Linked DNA regions of Homo sapiens: regions 1, 3 and 4 are each reported to be linked to region 2. The links are microRNA targets in miRTarBase. Many come from high-throughput screens and were not tested one by one. Region 2 holds a microRNA gene; each other region holds the end of a gene's coding sequence.
Evidence for each region. The annotated mature microRNA hsa-miR-877-3p reads UCCUCUUCUCCCUCCUCCCAG and lies in region 2 at 4,530-4,550, opposite strand. An mRNA with a match to its seed (bases 2 to 7 or 8) in the 3' UTR can be bound and repressed. Matches are read on the target gene's strand: a 7mer-m8 pairs with bases 2 to 8, a 7mer-A1 pairs with bases 2 to 7 and ends in A, and an 8mer does both.

Region 1: the mRNA of HMCES is a reported target of hsa-miR-877-3p. Seed matches in the 3' UTR shown: 7mer-m8 at 1,221-1,227.
Region 3: the mRNA of GNG2 is a reported target of hsa-miR-877-3p. Seed matches in the 3' UTR shown: 8mer at 4,038-4,045.
Region 4: miRTarBase lists PABPN1 as a target of hsa-miR-877-3p. Seed matches in the 3' UTR shown: 7mer-A1 at 5,564-5,570.

The regions. Positions count from the first base shown.
Region 1 is chr3:129,303,791-129,310,906 of GRCh38, forward strand. It overlaps HMCES (5-hydroxymethylcytosine binding, ES cell specific), which reads left to right. Exons shown (of 7, transcript NM_020187.3): 7 at 799-2,396. The coding sequence ends at 1,035. Among named protein-coding and RNA genes, the nearest start is that of H1-10-AS1, 8.9 kb to the right of the region's middle. RefSeq lists enhancers at 1,768-2,352, 6,473-6,532 and a cis regulatory region at 1,832-2,332.
Region 2 is chr6:30,581,831-30,588,946 of GRCh38, reverse strand. It overlaps MIR877 (microRNA 877), which reads right to left and starts at 4,615; the gene lies at 4,530-4,615. ABCF1 (ATP binding cassette subfamily F member 1) reads right to left here. Exons shown (of 25, transcript NM_001025091.2): 9 at 6,440-6,553; 10 at 5,759-5,881; 11 at 5,239-5,339; 12 at 5,057-5,142; 13 at 4,616-4,755; 14 at 4,381-4,529; 15 at 3,604-3,687; 16 at 3,265-3,389; 17 at 2,956-3,068; 18 at 2,642-2,813; 19 at 2,399-2,473; 20 at 2,236-2,306.
Region 3 is chr14:51,965,448-51,972,563 of GRCh38, reverse strand. It overlaps GNG2 (G protein subunit gamma 2), which reads right to left. Exons shown (of 4, transcript NM_053064.5): 4 at 2,769-6,005. The coding sequence ends at 5,877. Among named protein-coding and RNA genes, the nearest start is that of RTRAF, 21 kb to the left of the region's middle.
Region 4 is chr14:23,323,775-23,330,890 of GRCh38, reverse strand. It overlaps PABPN1 (poly(A) binding protein nuclear 1), which reads right to left. Exons shown (of 7, transcript NM_004643.4): 5 at 6,839-6,926; 6 at 6,602-6,753; 7 at 4,728-5,644. The coding sequence ends at 5,605. It overlaps BCL2L2-PABPN1 (BCL2L2-PABPN1 readthrough), which reads right to left. Exons shown (of 8, transcript NM_001387346.1): 7 at 6,839-6,926; 8 at 4,728-6,753. The coding sequence ends at 6,592. Among named protein-coding and RNA genes, the nearest start is that of PABPN1, 5.9 kb to the right of the region's middle. RefSeq lists a silencer at 2,609-2,698.

The sequences.
Region 1 (7,116 bases), not on the chromosome of region 2:
AGACTGCAGTGGCATGATCATAGTTCACTGCAGCCTCGAACTCCTGGGCTCAAATGATCCTCCCACCTCAGCCTCCCAGGTAGCTGGGACTACAAGCGTACACCACCATGCCTGGCTCATTTTTTTAAATTTTTTATAGAGATGGGGTCTTCCTATGTTTCCTAGGCTGGTCTCAAACTCCTGGGCTCAAGCGATCTTCCCACCTCAGCCTCCCAAAGTGCTGGGATTACAGGCATGCACCACTGTACCTAGCCCTGCCATGGTGTTTACTCCAAAAGATGTCACATTCTGGAGAGGTGGCATTGTGCTAATTCAGAACCTTTCAGTTCAGGATTGGGGTGTGATGTAAAGGAAGCAGAAGGGAGTAGTGACAGTCAAGAAGAGGTTGTACAGATTGTCTGCACAAAGAGGAAACAATTTAGCCTTATCACAGTGGCTGTTAGAAATTCTTCTGTATCTCTCCAGTCTCGTTTTCCAACACTCCCCCTGGGTCATGCTGAATTACATTCTTTTCCCTGAGAATGCTTCATTCTCTGCACATTTGGAATGCCTTTCAGCTCTCTTCTCTGGCTGGTCCCACACAATCCTCTGTGAAACCTTCTCTAAGATCTACTTTCCTGCCCCTTAGAGCACACTCCTCTCTTTCCACTCTTGACTGGTGGGCCCCAGCTGGCCCTTAGTAACATTTTCCAAGCCTGGGTAAGTACCTAATGCCTCTTCCCCTGTTTCTTCCCTTGGACTTGGCCTTTTCCCAAAAGCTTGAGCTGTATGGTTTGAGCTTTTTCCTCTTTCTTGTAGGAGCTCAGGGCAAGTGGCAGTAGCCAGAGGATGTTGCAGTGGTTGGCCACAAAGTCACCCAAAAAGGAAGACTCAAAAACACCTCAAAAGGAAGAGTCAGATGTTCCCCAGTGGTCCAGTCAGTTCCTGCAGAAGAGTCCACTCCCCACCAAGAGAGGCACTGCAGGACTCCTAGAGCAATGGCTGAAGCGGGAGAAGGAGGAGGAACCTGTGGCCAAGCGTCCTTACAGCCAGTGACACAGGACTTTCAGAGACCAAGGCCAGGGTCTGCTGCACTGCTGTTCTGATAATAGGTTCTTAACATTGTATGTATATGTGTTTGCTTTGGGAGGAGGTGGCACTGTGTTAGTTGACAGTTGTGGGCTCATGTAGTCTTTTTTGCCATGAGTAGGAGCCCCTAGTGGGGCTGGTGGACAGCTTTGGAAGAGGTGTCCTGCTGCTGTTACCAGCCATGTGGGCCCCATAGGGGCACTGCGCCTGCTGCCCTTTCCTGGCAGGGCTGGTGGAGTCTTCCCTCAAAGCATGCCTTACCCAGCTGGGAAGTCTCTGCCCTGATCTGGTACTCCTTGTAGTAAGCTGTTTTCTGCTCAGCCACTGGGCTCTTTCACTTTTTTAGTTCTTAAAAATTTATTTTTAAGTTCTAAAATAAAATAAAAATAAGTTCTTAAAATTTATTTTTTTCCTGAATAAATTGTATTTGGTAAACTTCTGCCTACATTTTGGAAAGTGATGCTGGTGGGGAAAGTTCTAGATCTTACTTGGTTTCTTCTAGAATCAGTCTTCAGGAATGGATTTTGTCACAAATGGGGCATGGGGGCTTTCTGAGGAAATAACTACAAGTCTTGGTGGTGGGCTCCTTATTATGTTTCTTTTTCTTTCATTCTTGATACTTGGAAGTCGTCTGAATCCTTTAGCTTCAAACCAGCCTGAGTTTGAGTGCTTGCCGTAGCAGAAACTATCCTTACCACAGGTGGGAAGGAAAGGACCAGTTTCTAGCAGTGTCGGGCCACTCCTCTTTCGAACATCCCTAAGGGAGGCATTCACAAAAGCTGTCCCAAGCAGCTGGAAGAAAACAGCTTCCGAGATGACCAGGAGGACTGGGCGGCGCCGAGCCCAGAACGCTCCTGGCGCAGCACCGTTGGCGTTGGCCGATTGCTGCTGGTGGGGGGCGGGGGTGCAGGCCCCAGTCTCTATGCAAATCAGGGATCAGAAGATCGGAATTTCCACCAATCAGCGGGAAGCCTCGGCCCTGTAACTGCTAATGGGAGACAGCAGCGCCACGCCACAGGCTTTTCCCCTGGTTTCGGGAGGGGTGGGGAGCCAGGTGGGGCTCCCGCCCAGACCCTTTCCCGAGGTCCGCCCTCTCCGCCTTTTCTCTAAATTCCTCTTTTGAGTGCCCTCCCTTCCGGTTGAGAGGCGGGGGTTGGCCCGTAGTTGTACACTCAGTCACCCTGCACTGTGGAGGCGGGGGCCTCCCTTGTGGACTGATTTGCGTGGGATTTGGTTGTTTTATTAAGAGATTTAAAAAATTCAGATGACTTACTAGTATGACTGTTTTGTCATATTTGCTTCCAGGTTAATAAATGACAAAAATGAAATTCCCTTTGTTTTTCATTATCATCTCCCCACTGTTTCTCATGGTTGCAAATTAGTTTGGTGAGGTCTTTTCATTTTAACATGAAAGAATATAATGCCTGCAGGGGCTTGTTTCCTTTTCATTCAAGTTTTTATACTTTCATATAAACGTGATGTTAGAAGCAAATCCTGGCCGGGCGAGGTGGCTCACTCCTGTAATCCTAGCACTTTGGGAGGCCAAGGCAGGTGGATCACCTGAGGCCAGGAGTTCAGGACCAGCCTGGCCAACATGGTGAAACCCTGTCTCTACTAAAATACAAAAATTAGCCGGGCATGACGTTGGGTGCCTGTAATTCCAGCTACTTGGGAGACTGAGATAAGAGAATCGCTTGAACCCGGGAGACGGTGGTTGTAGTGAGCCAAGATCACGCCACTGCACTCCAGCCTGGGCAGCTGAGTGAGACTCTGTCTCAGAAAAAAAAAAAAAAAAAAGCAAATCCTTATGTCTGAGAGCATACAGTATCATTTTATGAGTTTCAGGTTTACATAAATGGTATCATCTTGGGCATTCTGCAACTTCTTTTTCTCTAAGTCATCAGCTTTACTAGGTATTGCCAAATTGCTCTCCAAATTTTCACATATTTCAGGGGCATAAGAATCTTCATTTTCCCACCTTGCCAACATTTAATCCTGCTTACTAGAGCAATGGAACATCTTCCCGTCTTTTGTTCTTAGTCAAATCTGGACCAAACAGGGTAGCTCCCACCTGCCTGTCTAGGTGTGGCCAGGTGGAGCCAGGCCCTCTACCAATCTCTGGCGCAGGTGGGGGCAGGCCTAGGATGTGGCCATCTGGCCCCTCTGCTTGGCTCCCAGATAGCAGTCCTTCCCACCTCCCTCCCTTTCACCCTCTAGCAGTGACCAGGCTTGGCTCTAAGTCTTAAGGGTATGCTTCCCTGCACTGTAGCCTTAGAGGAGGCAGAGGGTCCCTGGGATTTCTGGTCCTGATGGATACAGGTGCCTGCCCCTCAGTCCTGTCTGCAAGTCCATCTTGATCCATTGTCTCATGCAAGGCTTGTATGCCTAAAGCCAAACCTGCTTTGTATAGAGGTGGAAACAGACCCAGGCAAGCGCATATGGCTTGACATAGGTAAGTTAAGGACAAGTCCACGGGACTCCTGGCTTGGGAGTAGTGTATCAGCTTGGGGAAGTTGGATGAGATCTTGCTTGTAGCCAAGAAGAGTCTGGAGGGTGGGTGTCGTGGGGGGAACCAGAGGCAGTAAGGGAGGTCTCAGACTCCTAGATTCCTACCTGGGCCTGTAGGAGCTCCCCATTCTTACCTGGGCCTCTTTCTTCTCAACCAGAGTGAGGAACAAGTGATGGGAAGGGTTGAACCTCATTCCCTGGGGATAGGAGCTTTGGCTCAGGCTCCTCTGAGTACTGTCTGCCTGAGAGGGTCCTCAGTACATACAGAACTTTTTTTTTTTTCCGAAACAAGGTCTTGCTCTGTCACCCAGGTTGGAGTGCAGTGGCACGATCTTGGCTCACTGCAACCTCTGCCTCCTGGGCTCAAGTGATTCTCCCATCTCAGCCTCCCAAGTAGCTGGGACTACAGACGCATGCCACCACACCCGGCTAATTTTCATATTTTTTGTAGAGATGGGAGTCTCACTATGTTGTCCAGGCTGATCTCAGACTCCTGGGCTCAAGCAATCCTCCCACCTTGGCTTCCCAAAGTGCTGGGATTAAAGGTGTGAACCACCGCACCATCCAAACCCCTGTCCTACCACAGAAAGTTGTAAAAGGCAGAGTCTTTCACAGTCCCTAACCAAGGCAGCCAGAAGAAGGATAGGGGTTGGGAGAGCCAAGAAGAGGCGAGCAAGAAAAGGAGCCTCTGGGAGGGCATATTTATAAGGTGCACTGGGCAAGGCTCTGGGGTCCTAATGACAACCCTCTATGGAGAGGTTGTTACCCAGGTGTAGACACTCAGCACTGGCAGATAGGTCTCTGGCTTTCACTAGTGTATGGCTACCTTTGGTTGAGTCCCCTTCAGGACATCATCATTTGGGGCTTCTTGTCTTGTGAAGTGGCCAGAAGTGTCCTCATAGAAGATCCAGTTGTGAAATCTCAAAGCTGGGGGACTTCAGGCCACATTTAGCTCACACAGTGATTTTGTTTGGCCCATACAATATATATTTATTTTTTAATTCTGGTAAAATGCATGTGACATAAAATCTGCCATCTTAGCCTTTTTTTTTTTTTTTTTTTTTTTTTTTTTTTGAGACAGAGGTCTTGCTCTGCCCCCAAGGCTGGAGTGCAGTGGCAAGATCTCAGCTCACTGCAACCTCCACCTCCCGAGTTCAAGTGATTCTTCTGCCTCAGCCTCCCGAGTAGCTGGGGCTACAGGTGCCCACCACTATGCTCAGATAATTTTTGTATTTTTAGTAGAGATGGGGTTTGTTGGCCCCATGTTGGCCAGGCTGGTCTCAAACTCCTGAGCTCAGGTGATCTGCCCGCCTCGGCCTCCCAAAGTACTGGGATTACAGGCGTGAGCCACTGTGCCTGGCCAAACATTTTAAAATATACATTCAATACTGTTAATTGTATTCACATTGTTGTGCAACCAATCTCTGAACCTTTTTCATCTTGCAAAACTGAAAGTTAAACAACTCCCCATATTTCCCTCCCCTCAGCCCTTGATAACCACCATTCTACTTTCTATCTCTGAATTTGACTACTCTAGATACCTCATTTAAGTGGAATCATGCAGTGTTTGTCTTTTTGTCACTGGCTATTTTCACTCAGCATAATGTTCTCAAGATTCATCCATGTTGTAGCATGGGTCAGAATTTCCTTCCTTTTTAAGGCCAAATAATATTCCATTGTATGGGTAGATCACATATTTAAAAATCTACTTATCTGTCAATGGACCCTTGGGCTGCTTCCACCTCTTGGCTATTGTGAATAGTGCTACTATGAACATGGATGTGCTCTTCTCATCACTGCTTTCCAGTCTTTGGGGCATTTACCCATGAGTGGAATTGCTGGATTGCATAGTAATTATATTTAATTTTTTGAGAAACTGCCATGCTGTTTTCCATAGCGGTTGGACCATTTTACATTCCTTCCAACAGTGCAAAAGTGTTCCAGTTTCCCCACATCCTTGCCAACACTTTCTATGTTCTGTGTTTTTTTTTGTTTGTTTGTTTGCTTGTTTTTTGTTTTTTGAGACAGGGTCTGGCTCTGTTGCCCAGGCTGGAGTGCAGTGGCTCGATCTTGGCTCACTGCAGTCTCCATCTCCTGGGCTCAAGCGATTCTCCCACCTCAGCCTCCTGAGTAGCTGGGATTAAAGGCACACACCACCATGCCCAGCTAATTTTTGTATTTTTTGTAGAGATGGGAGTCTCGTTATATTACCTAGGCTGGTCTTGAACTCCTGGGCTCTAGTGATCCTCCCACCTTGGCCTCCCAAAGTGCTGGGATTATAGGTGTAAGTCACAATGCCCAGCCCTGTTTTTTCATAGTAGCCATTCTAATGGGTATGGGGTGTTTTTTAAGTCCATATTTTAAAATAATGGGAAATTTCAGAAAATAGTTTAGTTTCCACTTTCAAAAATTTTGAGGAGGTGCCTCCGACAACCAGGCCCCATGTAGGACCACTGCTGCACTGAGGTACCCTACCCCATTCCTCCCTGCATGGCCAGACCACTCCCAGCCTCCAGAGAGGGACTTGGAAACTTTCAGGAGGTGCTTCTTCTAACATTATTTGGAAAACTGGGAAGCTCTGAAAACAATCAGTAAGAGCTGGGTAGTCACTGCCCCTCTTCAGGTGGAGTCTGTGTCTTCCAGTTGGCTAGAATGCTCTACCTGGTCTGGAAGCCCTCCTCACCACCCCCCACACCCATTTTTAACTGTGGAATTGGGAGGGCTTTGTAACATGCCAACTTGGCCTGGCTGAACCATATTTTCCAGAACTCCCTGACTAGTATATTTTCCATCAGGGTGGGCCAGGAGGCAGATTCTCATCAGATTTGGAAGGAAGCAACCATTTGGACTGCTGATCTGCTGACTCACCTGATTGGCATGAAGCAGCACCTGGACCTGCAATTGCTGTGCTTTTCCCGGACTCTCCTTCAGTTTTTTCTGACTCCTGGGGCAGGTGTGTGCACGTCTAGCTCTGTGGCTAAGGGTTCCAGCTTCTACCTTCATCAGTGAGGTCAGAGACAAAAAGAATAGACACAGGTTTCAGTCTGTTGTCACGGGTCCTCCCTGTGCTAGTGGGGTTTCAGTATGCTCATGTGCTCATGGTGTTCCCCTCCTGACCACCTGCCTGTGGACTTCAAGCTCCGTCAGTCTTGGAGATACAGCCTTACAGAAACTGCTTAATCAGCCCCTACAATTGTGCAAGCCAGTTCCCTGGTTTTCCTTCTCCATTGAGTTGACATGGGAACCTGAAGCCCTGCTGACTTCTCCGGCCTCATGCCCTGTCACATTGCCCCCACTGCTTTTACCACTACACCTTTCACCATTCCCCAAACCCAGCAGCCTGTGCTACTGTGGGGCTTCCAGTCTGGAATGTCCCTACCAGGAACTTTCTGGTTTATCTGTCCTTCTCCTGCAAGTGACTGAGTCCCATCGCTGCCTCTGCTCCCATTCACCCCTAGCTTGGCACAGTCCAAGAGAAGGGGCCCAATCCAGTAGGTGTTGAATGAATGACTGTGGACTAACCCCTTGGCATATGAGATG
Region 2 (7,116 bases):
AGGGGAGTTAAGCAAAATGGAGGACAAGAGGGACAAGCAGGAGGGACTAACCACAGCCAAAGAACACCTGCTCTCCATACAGCGAGACTCACGAATGGTACATCGTAAGGGCCTCATGTGGCAAGTTTAGTGTTTTGGGGAGAATCTAATAATACCTTTCTAAAGATCTAATCTCTGGATATGAGAAAATGGCCTCTCAACACTGCTAGAGAGAGCAGAAATGGCTACAAACTTTCTAACACACTAGATGGCAATATATTACAAAAGTTCAAATAAAATGGTAGAGTTTGCCGGGCGTGGTGGCTCACACCTGTAATCCCAGCACTCTGGGAGGCCGACGCAGGCAGATCATGAGGTCAGGAGATCAAGACCATCCTGGCTAACACGGTGAAACCATCTCTACTAAAAATACAAAAAATTAGCTGGGCGTGGTAGCACGCGCCTGTTGTCCCAGCTACTCGGGAGGCTAAGGCAGGAGAATCGCGTGAACCCAGGAGACGGAGGTTGCAGTGAGCCAAGACTGTGCCACTGCACTCCAGCCTGGGTGACAGAGTGAGACTCTGTCTCAAAAAAAAAAGGTAGACTCATATGAAATAAGTAATTGCATGGAAAAATGCTTGATATATTTGGAAAAATCTAGCTACACAACAACTCATATGACAGCCCATTTTTGTTAAAAATTATATGCACATTTGCAAAGAAAAAAGGAGAAAGATATCCACTAAAACATTAATACTGGTTATCTCAGCTGGGAGCGGTGGCTCACGCCTGTAATCCCAGCACTTTGGGAGGCTGAGGCGGGCGGATCACAAGGTCAGGAGTTCGAGACCAGCCTGACCAACATGGTGAAACCCTGTCTCTACTAAAAATACAAAAAGTAGCTGGGCATGGTGGGGCGTACCTATAATCCCAGCTATTCAGGAGGCTGAGGCAGGAGAATATCTTGAACCTGGGAGGTGGAGGTTGCAGTGGGCCAAGATCGCACCACTGCACTCCAGGCTGGGCGACAGTGAGACTCCGTCTCAAAACAAAATAACAAAAAAAAAAAACTGGTTATCTCCAGATTTTTCTCTTGACTTAAGCATTTTTTTTTTTTTTTTGACAGAGCCTCACTCTGTCACTTAGACTGGAGTGCAGTGGCACGACCTCGGCTAACTGGAACCTCTGCCCCCTGGACTCAAGCAATTCTCCTACCTCAGCCTCCCGAGTAGCTGGGACTACAGTCGTGCACCAACATACCCAGCTAATTTTTGTATTTTTAGTAGAGATGGGATTTCACCATGTTGCTCAGGCTGGTCTGTTTTTTTTTTTTAGACGGAGTTTTGCTCTTGTTGCCCAGGCTGGAGTGCAATAGCGCAATCTCAGCTCACTGCAACCTCTGCCTCCTGGGTTCAAGTGATTCTCCTGCCTCAGCCTCCCAAAATAGCTGGGATTACAGGCATGTGCAACCACGTCTGGCTAATTTTGTATTTTTAGTAGAGATGGGGTTTCTTCATGTTGGTCTCAAACTCCTGACCTCAGGTGATCTCCCACCTCGGCTTCCCAAAGTGTTGGGATTACAGGTGTGAGCCACCACACTGGGCTCAGGCTGGTTTTTAACTCCTAAGCTCAAGTGATCTGCCTGCCTCAGCCTCCCCCAAAGAGTTGGGATTATAGGCGTGGGCCACCACGCCAGGCCAATTTTTTTTTTTTTTTTTGAGATGGAGTCTCGCTCTGTTGCCCAGGCTGGAGTGCAATGGTGCAATCTCAGCTCACTGCAACCCCCGCCTCCCAGGTTCCAGCAATTCTGCCTCAGCCTCCTGAGTAGCTAGGATATAGGTGCGCGCCACCGCACACGGCTAATTTTTGTATTTTTAGTAGAGGCGGGGTTCACTATGTTGGCTAGGCTGGTCTGGAACTCTTGACCTTAGGTGATCCCTGCTGGGATTATAGGAGTGAGCTACTGTGCCTGGCCCGTTTATGCAATTTTTAATCGTTCTATAAAAGACATATATTTCTTGTATAACCAAAACACGTGGGTGTGCCCCCTAGTTCTATCTTAATTCTCTTAGCTCTCCCCCCTGAACTGATCTAAGCTCTTTCCTCCTCTACTGCCCCTCTTAGGGAAATGAATCATCTATCATGAGTTCTGTATTTAACTCTACATTCTCGAGAGGCTCCCTGATTCCAGCTTCTGGCAAAAGCAGCTGTGTCTTCACATTTCTCATGCTCTCCCTCCTTGGCTCCAGGACTCACCGGTGTCAGCTTGCCAGTCAGCAGCAGGAGTAGCGTACTCTTCCCCACACCATTAGGGCCCACAATGCAAACTGCAAGATGGAAGACAGGTGGTCAAAGAGGTCCCCAGAGACTCTCCCTGTGGCTCCTGCTACACATCCCTGAGGCAACCCCGCCAACTCACTCCTTGAATCCATGTCGATGCCAAAATCCAAGTTCTTAAAGAGTGGTTTCTGTCCCTGGTAGCCGAATGTCACACCTGAAAGCCACGAAAAGAAGCAATTTATATTCTTTTCAGTCCCTGCAAAGTCCCTCTCATGTGCTGGCCTTGGAGAACAGGAGCAATCTCAGCCTTGGTGGAGAATTTAGGGTGCACATACATGCTTCCGGTGCTTCCTGTGGAGCAGCAGAGGCCCGCGGCACTCACCATGCAGACCCAGCACTGGAGGGCTGAGTGGTGGGGGGTCTGGAAAAGTGAAGCGCACAGTGTACTCCTTAGGGCGCTTCAGGAGCTCAGGGGCCTCCTGGGATTCCTCATCTTGGTTTTTCCGTCGGCATTTCTGCTGCTTCCGAGTCAGGGCTTCCTTCGTTTGTTTTTCCTGGAGAGGAAGAGGAAAAAAGAGAAACCTGAGCCCTGCGCGGCAGTCCTTGAAATGTAGGCCAGCGTTCCAGAGTCTCCTTCTTCCTCCACTGCCAGGAGAGAACAGTGGCCCCCAGCCCAGAAGTCCCTCAGGTGCTCACCGCCTGCTTGGTGGACTTCCCGCCTGCCTTCAGCTCCTTCAGCTTTTTCTCTTGCTTCTCATACTGTTTCAGCAGTTCTTTCTGCTTCTGCTGGTACATCTTTTTGAAGGTCACTGGGGCAGAAGAGGGGACCAGGCATCAGTGGTTGCTCCTCTTCCCAGCAAAGGGACAACCAGGGACTGGTGGTGATGGGGTAGGCATCACTGTCTGGAATTCTGACAGGATTCAGTTTATCTAAATAGGCCCTCCCACTCAGGCCTCTTTTCGAGGTTCTATCTCTTCCCTGCATCCACACACAATCCTACTTACTGTAATTGCCCCTATAGTAGTGGAGCCGCTGGGCATCGAGGTGGATGATATCAGTGCAGACATCATCCAAGAAGCCCTGGTCATGGGAGACGATCAGCAAGGTCTTCCGCCAGCCCTGGAGGTAGCTGGGTTTCAGAGAACAGGGTGTAAGTGTCACAGTGGTCAAGTGAGAGAGAATTCAGAGGAAGCAGGCAGACAACGGGGGCTGGGAGGGAAAGGGGGGTCTGAATAGAGCTCCACTCACAGGCACAGTGGAGAAGGGCTAAAGGAAAACAGGGCAGGGAGGGAAGGGGAAGAAAGTGCAGAATGGGAACCAATGATGCAAAGGCCGTAACGCACTTATTAAGCCAGATGACAGCGTTGAGGTCCAGGTGGTTGGTGGGCTCATCCAGCATCAGCAGTGTGGGCTCCATGAACAGTGCCCTAGAGGGTGGGTAGCAGAGGGCAGGGTCAGGGAGAGAAAGATCCTTGCTCAGACAACCCCAGAGAAAACTCGGAGATAGAGCCTGAGACCATGAACACTCCTTCCCAAGCTCTCCTCAGAGAAGTTCTCGGGCAGGATACGGTTTAATTTTTTTGAGACAGGGTCTCGCCCTGTTGCCCAGGCTGTCGTGCAGTGGCACAATAAGGGCTCACTGTAGTCTAAATCTCCCAGGTCTAAGTGATACTTCTACTTCAGCCTCCAGAGTAGCTGTGACCACAGCGTGCGCCACCATATCCAGCTGATCTTTAAATTTTTTGTAGAGACAGGGTCTCCCTATGTTGCCCAGGCTAGGATATGTTTTCTTCCCCCTTTTGTGAAGATAGAGTCTCACTATATTGCCCAGGCTGGTCTCAAACTCCTGGGTTGAAGATAATCCTCCTGCCTCTGCCTTCCAAAGTGCTGGGATTACAGGCGTGACCCATTGCACCCAGCTGCAGGGTATGTTGATGAGAACTCACCACCAAGTAGGGAGATAAATAGAGAAAGACCCTAAGTTCTCACAACACAGATAGTAAGGAGGGAGAGGTAAGCCTTGAGCCTCCCTATTGGCCTTGGAAGAATGAGAAGGGAAAGAGGAAAAGGGCCCCGGTGGTCTGAGGCTGGAAGGGAGGGCAGTGAGGTGAATGGCCCACCTGGCCAGGGAGACACGCATGCGCCAGCCCCCTGAGAACTTCTGTGTGGGTCGATTCTGCATTTCAGGGTCAAAGCCCAGGCCAGCCAGGATCCGCCGTGCTTTGGCCTCTGCAGCTGCCGCCCCAGTGGCCCGCAATTCCTCATACACCTGGGAGGAGGGAGAAGAGGACACACGTCTGAGGGTCCCAGGAACCCCCAAGTCTTTGCCCGTGTCCCCTGCGCCATCTCCTCTACCTTCTCTAGCCTCTCAGCAGCTGTGTCATCCCCTTGTTCCAGCTGTCCCTGAAGCCGCCGCTCCTCTTCCAGCAGCTTCAATCGCTTGGTGTCAGCTCGAAGAACAGCCTGGACTGCTGGTGTCTCATCTGCTACCACCTCTGGGAGGCAGAGGGAGAACAGTCAGGCAGCCTCAAGAGCCAAGAGTCTCATCTTTCTTTCCCTTCAATTACATTTCTGTTTTGCCTGACCCTGCCCAGCTCTTTGTACTTGTTCCAAATAAAACACTCTCAAGTTCCTCATTGACCCTCCCCTCCTTTCCTTAGCATCCCTTTCCCGGTCTCCAGTCTCCCTCCACATCCCTTCCAACTCCATAGCCACAATTTCTTCTATTCTTGGCTGGCTGGCTTTTCTACCCAACTGCCCACCCCACCAAGCCCCTTTTCTCCCCAGTGGTCTCACCCTGCTCACACAGCAACACATCAATGTTGGGAGGGATGCTCAGGGCTCGGTTGGCAATGTGCTTGAGGAGTGTGGTCTTGCCCTTGCTGGGGAATAAAAGCTATTAGGACCTGGCCACCACTGAGAAATCTCTTCTTTTCCCTCCAGGCCCTTTTTTGCCTCCAGCTCCCTCCTCTTCTCACCCATTGGGTCCTACCAGCCCGTAGCGGCGGCCGGCTACAATGTACAGGTCTGCATTGACGAACAGCTCCTTGCCATGAGCGGAGATGCTGAACTTCTCCAGCTGCAGCCATCAGGAAAGAGGTGGCAGAGGGAAGGGATGATCACATGAAAATTCTCCCTTTGGGACAGGAGCGGCCACTTTCTCCCTGCAGGGAAGCCTCTGACAAACCGCTACCTCCAGCATAATCCCCTTCCTCTCCCCACAGCCGGTCCCCGCCCTGTTCGCTGCCTGTAATGGGAGCCCCATGCATCCTCAGCTAGTCTAGTCTGTCCCACACTATTTTCTGCCAAGGGTGGACCCCACTTCTACTGGTTTTTCTATCTTCTTGCTCAAGTTGGCAGAACCTAAGGTGTGGAAAATGCCTCCAATCTTTCTTCCCACTGAACTAACCCATTCACACACCACAGCCACTCAGGGAAGATGAGAGAACTGGCTCTTCCCTAGGTAAGTGGACTGGAAGGGGCCCCTTGAGACCTTACCTTGATGTCAGATGCATTTTCTAACATGGCTTGGCGGGAGGACATCTCCGCCTGGGACACGGAGAAGTCATTTTCAGCTGCATTGGCTGCTTTTAATGAAGCCACTTGGCGCTCATACTCCATCTGAGAAGGTAGGAAAAACTACATTTGAAGCCACAGTCTACCAGTTTCCCATCACCATGAAACAGCCCATGCTGGCTGGGCATGCTGGCTCACGCCTGTAATCCCAGCACTCTGGGAGGCTGAGGTAGGTGGATCTCTTGAGCTCAGGAGTTTGAGACCAGCCTGGCCAACATGCTAAAATACTGTCTCTACAAAAAATACAAAAATTAGCCAGGCATGGTGGTGCCACCCATAGTCTCAGCTATTCGGGAGGCTGAGGTGGGAGGATCACTTGAGCCTGGTAGGTTGAGGCTGCAGTGAACAGAGATCACGTCATTGCACTCCAGCCTGAGTAACAGTGTGAGACCCTGTCTCAAAAAATAAACAAAAAACCCCAAAGTGAAACAGCCCATGTCATCAGACATTGAGATAAGGTTCACAGAACACAATTATTTTCTTACTCCGATTGTTTTACTTGGAGTAGCCCCCAAACCTTTCCTTCGTGTCCCCAATCGCATGTCCCCTAGTTGAAGTATTTAAAAATCCCCTACTTTTGACCGCTAAGAACCAAGGTCTTACCTGTTTTTTCAGCTTTTTCTTCTCCTTTTTGCTAAGATGAGCATAGGGATCATCTGCCTTAGACTCTCCTCCTTCCTCCTCCTCTTCTTCCCCTTCTCCTTCTTCCTCTGAACCCTGTGAGAACCCGGGGATGGTCAAAACTAGGGACTCCTGGCTGGGCGCGGTGGCTCACGCCTGTAATCCCAGCACTTTGGGAAGCCAAAGCGGGCAGATCCCAAGGTCAGGAGATCAAGACCATCCTGGCTAACATGGTGAAACCCCATCTCTACTAAAAATACAAAAAATTAGCCGGACGTGGTGGCGGGCGCCTGTAGTCCCAGCTACTCGGGAGGCTGAGGCAGGAGAATGGTGTGAACCTGGGAGGAGGAGCTTGCAGTGAGCCGAGATCGTGCCACTGCACTCCAGCCTGGGTGACAAAGCAAGACTCCGTCTCAAAAAAAAAAACAACAAAAAAAAACTAGGGACTCCTTCTAGAACTCAGATTTCACATCATCTGCCCCCTGTCCCTGCCCCAGCTCTTTCCTTCACTACTCAGAGTCCTAAAATATCTTGGGATCCTCTCTCATTCTCATACCCAGCCCCTGGTCTCCCTGAGGTCCTTTATTAATTTCTGCTACCAGGAATGGTACAAGACAAATGGTATGAATGTGTATTTATGAAATGTGACAACGCGTTAT
Region 3 (7,116 bases), not on the chromosome of region 2:
CTGTCTAAAAAAAATGTAAAAAGCAGCAGACAGGGAAGTGGGATGAACTCACAGCACACTGAAGGAGACAGGATGAACTGGAAAAGAGGGTTTGGATGGCAAGATGGGATTAGCCAAGTGGGGCCTCTCAAGGGCCTTGAGAGCCAGGTAGTTGAGATTGGACATGATGTGGTTGACAAAGAGCACCATGAACCAGAGAACCTTGGGTTTCTGAACATGGTGAAAGATGAGGTAACATCAATAAATCTGTTAAGATGTGGTTGGCATCAGTTGTTTTTTGCCTTTAACTTTCAATCCTGCCTCCTGTAGCAAAAGGACTTCAATTTCCTTAGAACCACTGTTCTGCCCACATGGCCCAGTGACTCTACCTCTATCCCTAGGTCCAGGGGTGGGCGAGCACAGGAACCAGATCTAGCCAATAGTGTCTTAGGAAGGGTTCCAGGGATATAGCCAGAGGCTTCTGCTAGAGCTGTTGTTATCTTTCTTCCTTGATTACTAAACTGTTGAGATATAAACCTGGGCCTGCTGACACCATCTTGATGCTGCGGGGCAAGAGTCTGAGAATTAAACCAGCACAGAGAATAGCCTAGCCAAGGGATGACAGGGACATTCCATGACATCCTCTAAGCATCTGGATCCAGCTGGGCTTGAAGTGGGACCTATTTTGGGGCATTAGGTTTCTGTCACTTGCAATCAAAGAAGTCCTGACTAATGAATACTCAGGGTCAACTGGGTGAAAGTGGGAGGAGATGAGCATCAGAATGCCCATACCAGCTGGTGTGATGGGAATTCAGACATGAGACACTGAGGGTCTCAACCAGGGCATTTGGGGGCTAGAGAGAAAGGAGGTGAGTTAAGAGGTGAGCAGGAGCTATCTAGCGGTTTCCTTTCTTCGAAGGTTGCCGTCAAGTAGTTTCTAATGGTTCTTTACCACCTCTGCCTTCGTGATGCCCCTTTACCTCTTTCATTTTTCTTTTCTTTTTTTTTTTTTTTTGAGATGGAATCACGCTCTGTCACCCAGGCTGGAGTGCAGTGGCGTGATCTTGGCTCACTACAACCTCTGCTTCCCCGATTCAAGCAATTCTCACGCCTCAGCCTTCCAAGTAGCTGGGATTACAGGTGCCCACCACCACACTTGGCTAATTTTTGTATTTTTAGTAGAGACAGGGTTTCACCGTGTTGGCCAGGCTGAACTTCTGACCTCAAGTGATCCACCTGCCTCAGCCTTCCAAAGCGCTGGGATTATAGGCGTGAGCACTGTGCCCATCCTCTTTCATTTGTTTTTAACCATTTTGTGAGATAAATGAATCAGGCATTCTTGTACCCACTTTAAAGCAGGAGAGGTCAAAGGACTTGCCCAAGGTCGCATGGGAGCGCTGGAGCCTAGTTCTGGTTCTCTAGTGCATGCTAATGCTCGAGCACAGTGTGGACTGAGCTCCCCAGGCCCCGTCTTTCTGTTGCTTCATTGTGGAGATGCAATACCCGGCTCCCGGCTTTTCTTATGACTTCCAGAGAGAAACAGCAGTAGTTCTTGCTGAGGAAAGGCCCAGGAGCCCATGGCCTTCTTCATTAAAATAAATTCTGCCTGAGTCTCCTGGTTCTAAATAGAAGAAAATGTAGATTTGGGGCAGAACCGAAGGGAAAGGGATTTCCCTTGGCAAATTATTTGCAATTTGTGGATTGGAGCTGACCCAGCTCCAATTCCCTCTGTCATTCTAAGTGCCATCTACAATGTGACCAGCTTATTAAAGAATGAGAACTGGAGGCAGTCCTCCCACAGGGGCTCAACAAAACAGGAGCAGAGTCACAGCCCAGCTGCGTCTTCCTCAGTGTAGCATGTCTAGTTGCTGGCTAGATTCTCACCCTTCAGTTACATGTTCATGCCTAGGCAGCCACTTCTGGGGGCTGTGGGAAGAAGAGCGAGAATATTTATGAGTTGTTTGTGCCTTTCCTTTGGCAGTATGAAAAGCTAGCTGTCATAAATACTGTAGTGGTCCTCAGACTATAGCATGTAACAGAATGCACGTTCTTGAGTCACTGCCAGGGATTCTGAGTTCGTGGGTAGCTCAGGATCCGCTTTGTAAAGAGGCATTCCAGGTATTAATACTCCTGGAGCAAGTGGTCCATGGACCACAGTCTGAGAAACACTGATGTCAGTGGAGCACTAGTGTGCAAACTCCAAGTGGCCCCCTTCATCCGTGGTTTAAAGATGCTGCTGTTGCTGGCACAAGTCCCAGGAGATCCAGTGTTTCCTTCTTTACTAACAGGGTCTGTTACTGGCATAATCTGAGGAACATTCAGAAGTCTTTCTCGACTAAGAAGATCTCCAAGGAGCAGCTGCATCTAGAGTTCTAAGGACTTAGCTTCTCCTGTACTCCTTTTAAATCACAGATAGCTACAGAGAACAGCACTTCTGTTGTTCAGTCTTTATTTTTCATAAGGGAAAAAGCCCACTGTGGCATACCTGCAGCAAGTGAAAGTGTAAATACAGCTCCTCTGTCTGCATACTCCACCCTATCAGAGCCCTGGGCTCTCCTCACAGCCCCCACCTTTCTCTGTCCCCAAAGGCTGTACCCAAGATGTACAGACCTAGTAAGAAATGCTTTTAGAGTGTCAAGTGAGTTTTTTCTTCTTTCGGACATCTCTATTAACAAAATCCTAAAGAAAATCAATGGATTCCTATTTCCTCATCCATTCATACCATCAGATCCTTCTCAAATTGACCACAGAATCAGTGGCCGTCACAATGAAATTGACTGCATATGAAATGAATCTGAAAATTCCATTTATTAAAACACATACATTGTCCATGTGGGATGAAAATGTGCACATCACATTCAGGTTTTCCTGCTTTAACATTTCTGTAGTTCTCTCTTTGAAACACACACTCCACAGATCTTATATAGGAAAAATGTGAACAACTTTTGGGCTGCAAAACATTAATGCATACATAACAATTCATCATTGCCAAGAGCAGCTAGAAGCAAATATTAAGGAAGAAAGACAAAGAAGTATAAAAATTCCTAAAGACAGCATGCTTTATTTTCTCAAAATTCCATATGTGACTATGAGCGTATGGAGAAATCGTTTGATTTTTAAATTTATTGTTTTGTCCTTGGTAGGCAATCTCCTTCAAATATTATTAGCAAAATCAAACATAGATCAAAGTATGTATTTGCATCTTCTGATTGAAATTAAACAGTACTTGGTTTCAAATGTTTTAAAAATAACACTTTTTAAACTGGAGTTGATATTGAGGATCATGTAAAATTATTCTTTATAGACTTTGCATTCTAAATATGAAGTTTATTGTTACTACTTATTAGTTAATTCCACGGCAGATTTTCATTTCTATCGAATATATTATATGTAGAAACTAGGGCCTTAAATAATTAAGCTGACTTTTCCTATTAGTTATTCCTTAAGATAAAATTATGCTGGTGAAAATGACTGTTGAATTTCTCAAGAAATTAAGCTCTATAGAGGCATAAGTAATCGAAAGACTTTTTCCCCTGAATAAGTACAAATACCAAGAAGCCAAAACTCATATAAAGATTTTCGTATTATAATTCCATACTGTAAGACATAAAATTATGAAAAAGCCAAAACATTTTCCTTAAAATGCTCCCTAGAAATTGTAATTCCATCTTAATTGCTCCAAAGATCTAGATTTACATGGAAATATAAAGAGTCCTTCTGAGAAAAGGAAATGCTGTGAATAGTGGAAATCGTCTGGGCCTTCTAATGATGCCTCAGTCACCACCAAAGAGTGTTTTATTCATTCATCCGTGTTTTCATGTGACCACATACTCAATTCATGTTTTGGCCCATGTAAAAACTGTGATATGTTTTAGCTTATTCCATAGTGTTACTAAGCTAATTGTACAATGCTGTAGTTTAATAAATACTCTGCTGTTTTTTTCACCCCTAAATCTTCATGGGCGTCCTAACTGTAACAAAAACCCCACAATTTGAACAGAAGAACAGAAGTATCTGGTTACAGAAGTGCATTCATACATTTCACAAATGTTTCAGTATCCTCTTCTCCCCGACCCCAGCATGAGCTTTAATTGGATGTATTTATTCTTTCACCAGCATGCCCATGAAGGAGCTAAGGAAAACATTTACCAAGTCTGTTTCAAAATCTGTCCTTGGCATATCAAACTTTTTCTCTTCCTTTTTCATGCTTTTTTTTTAAAAAAAAAACAGGAGAAAGCGAATAGAGAGGAAAGAGACAATAAAATTAATTGGGAGATGGAGATGATATTTGGGGATTTGAAAGCAAACAAGATGTAAGAGAGGCCCTCTTTGACTGAAAATGACACAGAAAAAGGTGATCAAGTCTTCCAGGGCCTGCTGTTACTGATGGAGACTACAGCTACAATGAAAAATTACTCTCACTACCATATCTTGGGGAAGGAGCGCTCTAGTTGCAAGGAATTTGTAAATAAAGGCCGAGAGACTCTAACAAACAAGATGGAGAACAAAAACAAAGATTCCATTAAAAAATTTGTTAAGTGAAAAACCAAGACCATCTCAGTGGACAAAAGAGCCAGAACTCTTCCTCGTAGAGCCGGCCGTGGGGACCGCACCTGCCGCCCAAAGAGTGGCGATTTGAGGTCCTTCTCCCTGGAGAGTGAATAGCTGGAGTTCTGAGAATGGTCACCTTCTCTGGAGCTGTGGGTTTATTTCTTCTGATACTTGAACAAAGGAGGGCCATGGTTTTCTTGTTAAGAGCACAAAAAAATGTTCTTTTAATCTAGAATGTCCATGATTCAGGGAAAGAGGGAATTTGCTCATACTCATGGCAAAAGCATTTCCCAGCTCATGGTGAATCCTTAACTCTCCTGCTTGGTGACAGCTGTGCTGCCCTGGGTCCTGGATAAACCAAAATGCTTTGGATTCTGGAAAACGTATTGAAGAGGCATTTATACCACTATTAACTAGGAGGTATTTTAGGTGTGGCTAAGGCTCTGAAGTAATCTCAATTTTCAAAATACTGAGATTTTCTTCCCTCTCCGGGGTCTTTTCCCTCTCATTTCCTTTCCCAGCTTTAGAGTAAAACAACAAAACTTCTGAATGGATGTAACATAGGGACATTTTCATGCAATATTACTCAAAAATTGTCACAAATATATGAAAGCACCAGTCACAACACAGGATTTACTTTTACTTGCAGAATCAAAGCTATCATGTACACATGTTAGGAATAGTGAAAAGAGAACACAGACAACCGGCATTTTTTGTCGTTGTTACCATGAGGATACACCACGGGGAACATCTCCCTAAACATTTTGTGTGATCATTCTTGGAGTTCAATCTGATAGACCAGTCCAGCCTTATCTCCACACTACTCTAATGGGGAGGGGTGGAAGGAGGGGTAGAGGAGAAGGAAGAAAGAAAAAGAAAGGCACAGTGACTATACATCAATGCCATTAAACCGAATTGCATCTACACGGGACAGCTCAGCTTATCAAAGGGTATTCTAAAGACAATATTCATTCCAAGAAGGTCACACATATCTTACCTCAGTACAGCTGTCTGTTTTAATTGTTATTTTTCAAAATATGAAGCAGAAACATGAGGATTTTGGGGGGGGGGCTGGGGGATAGCAGAAAAGAAGTGACACCAATTTTATTTTTATATATTCCCCTCCTCCAGGCAGTTCGTCAGAATCAGATCTCTTAAGTCAGGATGTGGATCGGCTTGCATTCTCATAAAGGGGACCAGATCTTTAAACATGCATAGCCTAGAGTTTCCAGAATGGTTCTCCTCGCTCTCTTCAAATGCCGTGGACTAGAAAGGTGCCCACTTCACTAAAAACTCTACATCAATGTCCCAGGAGCCCGGAGGCTCTTCAGGCCCCTCTCAAAGACTTAAAGGATGGCACAGAAAAACTTCTTCTCCCTAAACGGGTTTTCTGAAGCCGGAACAGGGGTCAGGAGGGGGTCTTCCTTGGCATGTGCTTCACAGTAGGCCATCAAATCTGCAGCTGCCTTGGACACCTGGAAAGGGAGACAAAAACAACCAACACTGGAGTCTGGTACAGTCAGTCAAGGCCCAAGGCTTTAGAGCCCAATGTCCTGGCATCAAATCCTTGCTCCATGAAGCAAGATACTCAGCCTCTAAAAGCTTCTGCTTCCTCATCTGCAAAGAAGAAAGTTGACGACACTGACCTTACAGGATTGTTGCCAGCAAGTCTGGGACTAGGTTAAGGTGAGTGAGGCACTTAGGGTGCAGAACCGAAGGAGGCACTCGCTGGCAGGGGCATGCAGGTGTCAACCCTGCACTTCCATAGCCCCGCAGGTGGCTGTCTCCTTCATTTGTTTTTTTTTTTTTTTTTTTTTTTTTTTTGAGATGCAGTCTCGCTCTGTTGCCCAGGCTGGAGTGCAGTGGCTTGATCTTGGCTCACTGCAACCTCTGCCTCCTGGGTTCAAGCAATTATCTTGCCTCAGCCACCCTAGTAGCTGGGACTACAGGTGTGTGCCATGGTGCCTGGCTAATTTTTTGTACTTTTGGTAGAGACAGGGTTTCACCACGTTGGCCAGGCTGGTCTTGAACTCCTGGACTCAAGTGATCCACCTGTCTCGGCTTCCGAAAGTGCTGGGATTACAGACGTGAGCCACTGTGCCCGGCCCTCCTTCACTTTTGTGCTCCGATATCTCATTGCCCCACCCTGGTCCCAGCCCTGGTAACAAGGGTTAAATGAAAAAATCCCTGTAAATCATTTAGTGTCTGGCACATAGCAAGCTTTCCACACAGGCTAGCCATTATTATCATTTTGTAGTCGTGACTCTCTGCTTCAGGAATTGTGCTAGGGATGCCTAAAACCATGTCAATTTCCCTTTTTAAGCAGATGCAGCAGGAGATATATCTATGTATACACACACTATATAGAACATATTTTTATACTTCATATATATTAAAATTTATACCTGTGACTTTAACCAAGCATTGTGCCCTTTAGTGATATTTCACTGGGAGGTCGTCACTGATTCTGGCGATGCTGTCATTTCTTACAACATATTTGTAGCTGCTTGTTATGAGTTCCCTGTAGTACCTTCCTTCAACCATCTTCACCAGAGGAAATTTTTACTACATTAGAGCGTGGATTTA
Region 4 (7,116 bases), not on the chromosome of region 2:
CTCTACTAAAAAATAAAAAAATTAGACGAGCTTGGTGGTGCACGGCTGTAGTCCCAGCTACTTGGGGGGCTGAGGCAGGAGAATTGCTGGAACCCGGGAGACTGAGGTTGCAGTGAGCCAAGATCGCTCCATTGCTCTCCAGCCTGGGTGACAGAGCAAGACTCCATCTCAAAAAAATAAATAAATAATAAAAAAACAAAAAATTAGCCAGGCATGGTGGTATGTGCCTGTGGTCTCAGATACTTGGGAGGCTAAGGTGGAAGGATGGCTCAAGCCCAGGAGTTTGAGGTTTCAGTGAGATATGAATTTGTTGCTCATTCTGAGCAACAGAGCAAGACCTTGTCTCCATTAAAAAATAATAATAAGGCCGGGTGCAGTGGCTCATGCCTGTAATCCCAGCACTTTGGGAGGCCGAGGCAGGCAGATCATGAGGTCGGGAGTTCAAGACCAGCCATGGTGAAACCCCGTCTGTACTAAAAATACAAAAATTAGCCTGGCGTGGTGGCACACACCTGTAATTCCAGCTACTCGGGAGGCTGAGGCAGGAAAATCGCTTGAACCCAGGAGGCAGAGGTTGCAGTGAGCCGAGATCGTGCCACTGCACTCCAGCCTAGGCGACAGAGCAAGATTCCATCTCAAAAAATAATAATAATAATAAAATGTGATCATAATTTGAGAAAGGCTGCTCATTCTAACCATACATAAAAACAAGGAAAGCAGCAATATTATTGTAAAAACCCACCAACTGTTTCTTTTCTCCATTGCCAACGTCGGATTGGGCAAATCCTACCTTAAAAAGCACTGGCTTGCCTCGGTTTATTTTGCATCATCCAAAGGCCCTCTAAGGATCTCTGACTCACAGACCCTCACCCCAGACAGGTTTTATACACAGGCTCTCCCAGTCTCTTTCTTCCCATGGAACTCCAGTGAGATTGGGCTCATTTCTATCCCTCAGTTAACAGAGAGCCGATCAGGAGTGACTGACAGAAATCATCCACCAAAAATAACCAAGCTTGCCCGAGGAAAGTAACTTTCTTTCCATGCTTCTTCCTCTAAACCTAGTCTCTTTTAAGTAAAATAGTCTGACTCTTATAAGAATAAAACTAAAGGCCGGGCATGGTGGCTCACGCTTGTAATCCCAGCACTTTGGGAGGCCGAGGTGGGTTAACCACGAGATCAGGAGATCGAGACCAGCCTGACCAACATGTTGAAACCCCGTCTCTACTAAAAATACAAAAAATTAGCCAGGCATGTGGCGCATGCCTGTAATCCTAGCTACTCAGGAGGCTGAGGCAGGAGAATTGCTTGAACCTGGGAGGTGGAGGTTGCAGTGAGCTGAGATGGCACCACTGCACTCCAGCTTGGGCGACAGAGTGAAACTCCGTCTCAGGAAAAAAAAAAAAAAAGAGGAAGAAAACTACCAGCTCCAGGTAAAAGGCAACACTATTGTTGTTACCGCCTTCTCCAGGACAGGAAAGGCAAGCCCAGGGTGAATAAGCAACTTTTGGGCACCTACTAAATGGCAGGCCCTGTGAGGCAGACACAAAGTCACAATTGATGCCCTCAAGAAGCTTGCATTCGGCCGGGCGCGGTGGCTCACGCCTGTAATCCCAGCACTTTGGGAGGCCGAGGCGGGTGGATCATGAGGTCAGGAGATCGAGACCATCCTGGCTAACAAGGTGAAACCCCGTCTCTACTAAAAATACAAAAAATTAGCCGGGCGCGGTGGCGGGCGCCTGTAGTCCCAGCTACTCGGGAGGCTGAGGCAGGAGAATGGCGTGAACCCGGGAAGCGGAGCTTGCAGTGAGCCGAGATCCCGCCACTGCAGTCCGCAGGCCAGCCTGGGCGACAGAGCGAGACTCCGTCTCAAAAAAAAAAAAAAAAAAAAAAAAAAAAAAAAGAAGAAGCTTGCATTCTAGTGGGAAAACAGAAATGTAGTTAGTTTCATTATAAAACCACAAAGTAAATATTAAACAGGGATAGGAACAGTTTGTCCTGACTGCAGGAGTGATTACTTCTGACTTGGAAATCAGGAAAGGCTTCATGTCTGTTGTACCTGGCTTACACTTGGAAGGATATGCGTGATTTTCATAGAAGAGTTGGAATGAGCATAGCAGGCTAGAGGGAACAGCATGAGGGATACATGAAAATAAATAACAACTACAATGCATAGTACATCAGGTGTAGGGCAGGATCTGGAAGAGAAATGTAATCAGGATCAGATTGAAAAAGGTTGTAGTTCCATGCTTGTGTTTGGACTTTGTACTTATTGGTGGCATCATAGAGGGCTTTTTTTGGCAATAAGAAGTTTGGAGGCTGAGCATGGTAGCTTACGCCTATAAACCTAGCACTTTGGGAGGCCGAGGCAGGAGGATTGCTTGAGGCCAAGAGTTCAAGATCAACTTGGCCAACATAGCGAGACCCTATCTTTTAAAGTACTTTTTTTAGGAATTTTTATTTTTCAAAAAAAAATTTGAAGCCAATACATCTGCCAGGACCCCTGCAATGATGATGGGGAGTTACTCAAGCAGTGAAAGTAGGAATAGAGAGAACAGACAAGATATGGTAGAATTGACTGAATATGGAAAACTAAACCAGAGAAGGGTCAAAACATGATTCACCCTCCAATACCCAACAATTTATGGGGATCTTTTAGAGCCAGCCATTTAGTGCCCCCTGGTGGACAGATGAGACCATCACAGCATTAACAGCAACAAGTCACTTAGGCTGTTTCATTCTTCCAGTAAAAAGTTTATATTGAACACTATCCAGACCCTCACTAATCAGCCTCTGCAGAAGCCACAGAGATCACGGCACTATTTTAGGTGAATCTAGTTAGGAGAAAAGATAGACCTCAAATGCCTAACCCATAACAGAAAGTAGAATAAATGACCAAATCCTAAAATATGTGGTGGATAACACTGACATGAGATTTTAGAAAATACTGCAATTTGAGAGGTGGGTTAAGGCTTCAGATATAACAGAGTTTTTTGTTTTGTTTGTTTTGAGACAGAGTCTCGCTCTGTCACCCAGGCTGGAAGTGCAGTGGCTGAGTCTCAGCTCACCTCAATCTCCACCTCCTATGTTCAAACGATTCTCCTGCCTTAGCCTCCAGAGTAGCTGGGACTACAGGTGCATGCCACCACACCTGGCTAATTTTTGTATTTTTAGTAGAGACGGGATTTCACCATGTTGGCCAGGCTGGTCTCAAACTCCTGACCTCAAGTGATCCGCCCACCTCTGCCTCCCAAAGTGCTGAGACTGCAGGTGTGAGCCACTGCGCCCGGCCACAGAGCCATTTCTTTAACATATGATTTTTGAAGAGCATCCAGGTCAGAGGCAATTGTGAACAAAACATCCTGAGAAGTAAATGAAAAAATAGTAAGGTTGAAATACTAAGAAATTCTATAGGTAATGAAGTCTGAAGGTTCAACCTGGCTAGTGATGTAGTGTTCAAGTTTTAAGACCAATCTGACACTGGAATAAAAAATGGAGAAATTAGGATGCCCAAGACAAAATTTAGATATGAAAACAGTGAAAGCCAGTTGTGAAGTCCTAATAAACTAATCCTGGCCAGGAGCTGTGGCTCACGCCTATAGGAAGGCCAAGCCAGGAGGACTGCTTGAGCTCAGGAGTTTGGGACAGCCTGGGCAACACAGCAAAACTGTCTCTACAAAAAATTAGCCAAGTGTGAAGGCAGGCACCTATAGTCACAGCTATGTAGGACACTGAGGTGGGAGGATCACTTGAGCCCGGGAGGTTGAGGCTGCAGTGAGCCACTGCACTCCAGCCTGGGTGACAAAGCAAGACCATCTCAAAAAAATAAATGATCCAATTAATATAAGTTAGCTGGACACATTAAATGGTTACTGCATGGTTGGAAAAACAAGCTTTCCGATTGTCTCTTAGCTAAGTGTATTTTGTCTTCTGCATTTCTTGGGCCCACCTTGAGGTAGAAAAGGTAGCTGGGTGCAGTGGTTCACACTTGTAATCCCAATACTTTGGGAGGCTAAGATGGGAAGATTGCTTGGTCAACATAGCGAGACCCCAAAGACAAGGTTACCCAGACCCCAATCCAAAGCTCTAGGGCTGCAGGCATGGATAGTTCATTTGCACGTAAGCTGTATCAGGAGCACACAAAAGCGCCATTAGGTCAGTAATTCGGCTATTCCTTTTTTTATTTTGAGACAGTTTCACTCTGTCACCCAGGCTGGAGTGCAGTGGTGTGAACTTGGCTCACTGCAAGCTCCACCTCCTGGGTTCACGCCATTCTCCTGGCTCAGCCTCCCGAGTAGCTGGGACCACAGGCACCCGCCACCTCGTCAGGCTAATTTTCTGTATTTTTAGTAGAGGTGGGGTTTCGCCATGTTAGCCAAGATGGTCTTGATCTCCTGACCTCGTGATCTGCCCACCTCAGCCTCCCAAAGTCCTGGGATTGTAGCAGTGAGCCACCATGCCCGGCCCAATTCAGCTATTCTTTTACTTTCCCAGGCTTATTTCTCTCTCAAATGCCAATCAGGGTTACATGTTATCCAGAAAACCTATCATTCTCAACTAAACACATAATGTTCCTGCTAGTTGTAATGTAATTCCTACTCCTTAATTCACAAGTGGCAACCTCCCTTCCACAACACCAGTACTTCTACCACAAGGCAGAATTAATAGCCATCTGCGATCTAAGAGAGAATAGGAAGATAAATAATCCTTACACCCAAAAGGCCAAACAATTTTTATTTTCAAAAACAACTTTATTCATGACACATATTAAAAAAAAATTCCCACCCCTGGAAATGAGCTAAAAAAATAAACAAAATCCACCTCCCACCTCCCTGTTCCCACTTCCTCCCATTCCCTCCAAATAAAAGGGAAAAAAGGCAAAGGAAAAAAAAAAAAAACAAAAAAACAAAACAACTGAAAAACAAAAACACCCCTAAACCCCCCAAAACAAGGTAGTGCATTTCCCCAGGGGGAAGGGGAATTTACACTGGAGCCGCTGGGAGCGGAACGGAGATCTTCCGGCTACAGAAACCTGCAAAGAAAGACACTCAAAACAGAAAAAGAAACACAAAAGGAAACAAAATAGATCACCAGGCAATCTGGAGGGGCAGGGAGCCGGAGAAGAGGGGTGGGGTGGGTGGTAGACCTGGCTGGACAGGAGCAGGCAGGAGGGGACTGTGAAAGGCGAGGAGAAGACGGAGGGAAGGTAACAAGCAGAACAGTTTGGTGTCCTTCCAGAGCCCTGGGTAAAAAAAAAAACCTCCTACCACCCACGCCCACCTACCCTTGAGCAGCCCCCAAGGGGGTGAAGTGGGGCAGGGAAACATGGGCAGCAGCTTGCGCAGTTGAGACGTGTCCATGGCGAATCCCCAGAGTGAATAAGCAGCCCCCTGCCCCACTCCCTGGGCCTTCCCCTACTCCCCAAAGCAGGTCCCTCCTCAGCAGTTAGTTATGGGATTCTCCCCCCTTCCACAGTATATCTTTTTTTTAAAAAATATTTTTTTTCCATCAAGGTCATCTTCTGTTTTTCTTTTTTTTTTTTTTAATTCTTTTTTTTTTCCTTCTTTCCTCTTTTTTTCCTCTCTCTCCTCCTAATACACACTTTTTTTAGTAAGGGGAATACCATGATGTCGCTCTAGCCCGGCCCCTGGAAGAAAGAAGGAGAGTTAGGTGTTAACGTGATCACTAGATAGTTCAGTACAAGCCCCTCCCCGTAGGCCCCTGCCCCAGTTACTGTGAAGGGAAGGGGGGAAAAGAAGTGTTCAAGTGTCCTAAAACTGACCCCATGATCCCAGAAATAGTAACGCACCTGGAGAACTGGGGCAGGGGGAGGGGGGCTTAACAGAAAACTGCCAAACAGTGGCGAAAAAGAAGCGCATCTGAGTGAGAGACAGGGGCAAGGAAAAGGACCCCCTTTTTATCCAGTTTTCAGTCCTCCACAGCTCTTAAACCCTAGGCCATCACAAATAGATCCTCCCTAACTCCTGGGGATAGGCAGGTAGAGCTTATGAAAAGCCAAGGTTTATATGCCTAACCCGTCTATTTAAATGTAGAGACAGAAGTGAAGCAAGGCAAAAACCTGGGCACCACACTAGGCCCAGTGAGAAGTTAACCTTGCAAGACTGGCTCAAATAAAGAATAAGTATCTCAAAATCCTCCCACAAGGCTGTTGGGGAGGATCAACTAGCTAGCCTCTGGTATTCTTCCAAGGGAGGTTCAGTCTTCAATCCCTCCCTAACTCCGAAAAAAGTAACAAATGTCCAAGCAGTGCTTTCACTGCCTGGAGGCCCTGTTCCTCCCAGTTTTGTCCGCAAACACCTTCAAATGCCACCAACTCCCAAGAAAAAAAAGGCTGGGGGTGGAAGCCTCTTTGAACCAAGGGAGGGATGCAGCCCTTATCACCAATTTCTACTGCAGAAAAGATGATGAGGCTGGCCTTCTGGCCTGGCCTGCAACTACCTTCCTCAACCTGCACAGGCAGGAGACAAAGTTCCTGAAGACCACGGGGAGGGGTGGGGGGAGGGAGGTTCCTCAGACCAGAGAGGAGGAAGCATACGGGGCTCACGGGAGGCGGGGGAAAGAGGAGCAGCCCATCTATCCTGACCTGTAGACGCGACCCCGGGGCCTGCTGTTAAAACCACTGTAGAATCGAGAGCGGGAGCTGTTGTAGTTGGTGGTCCGGGCGCGGTAGCGGGCTCGTGGAAAACCCCGGTCTGTTGTGCTGATGCCTGGTCTGTTGGTTCGTTTTGGGATCACCTGAGTCAGAGATGAACAAATGATAGCCTTAAAGGCAACCTGGAGAGTTTATACACAACTAGAACAGCAATGGACATAGGCTTACCTTGATTTGCCTTCCTCTAAATAGGGACTCATCTAAGGCCAAGGAAGTCCTCACTGACTCTTTGTCTGAGAACTCTATATACGCAAACCTGAAAAGAATTGTCATTGTATCTCTCTGAGGTTACAAATACCTCACAGGTCAAATTCAACCTGCAGGCATGCTTCGTTTTGGGCTACAATGCAGTTATATTTTTTATTTGTCAAAATTCTTCTAAATGGAAAATTTCAATCATTCGAAATCATTTAAATTTTAAAATTTCCAGCTACTCTTTGAAATTT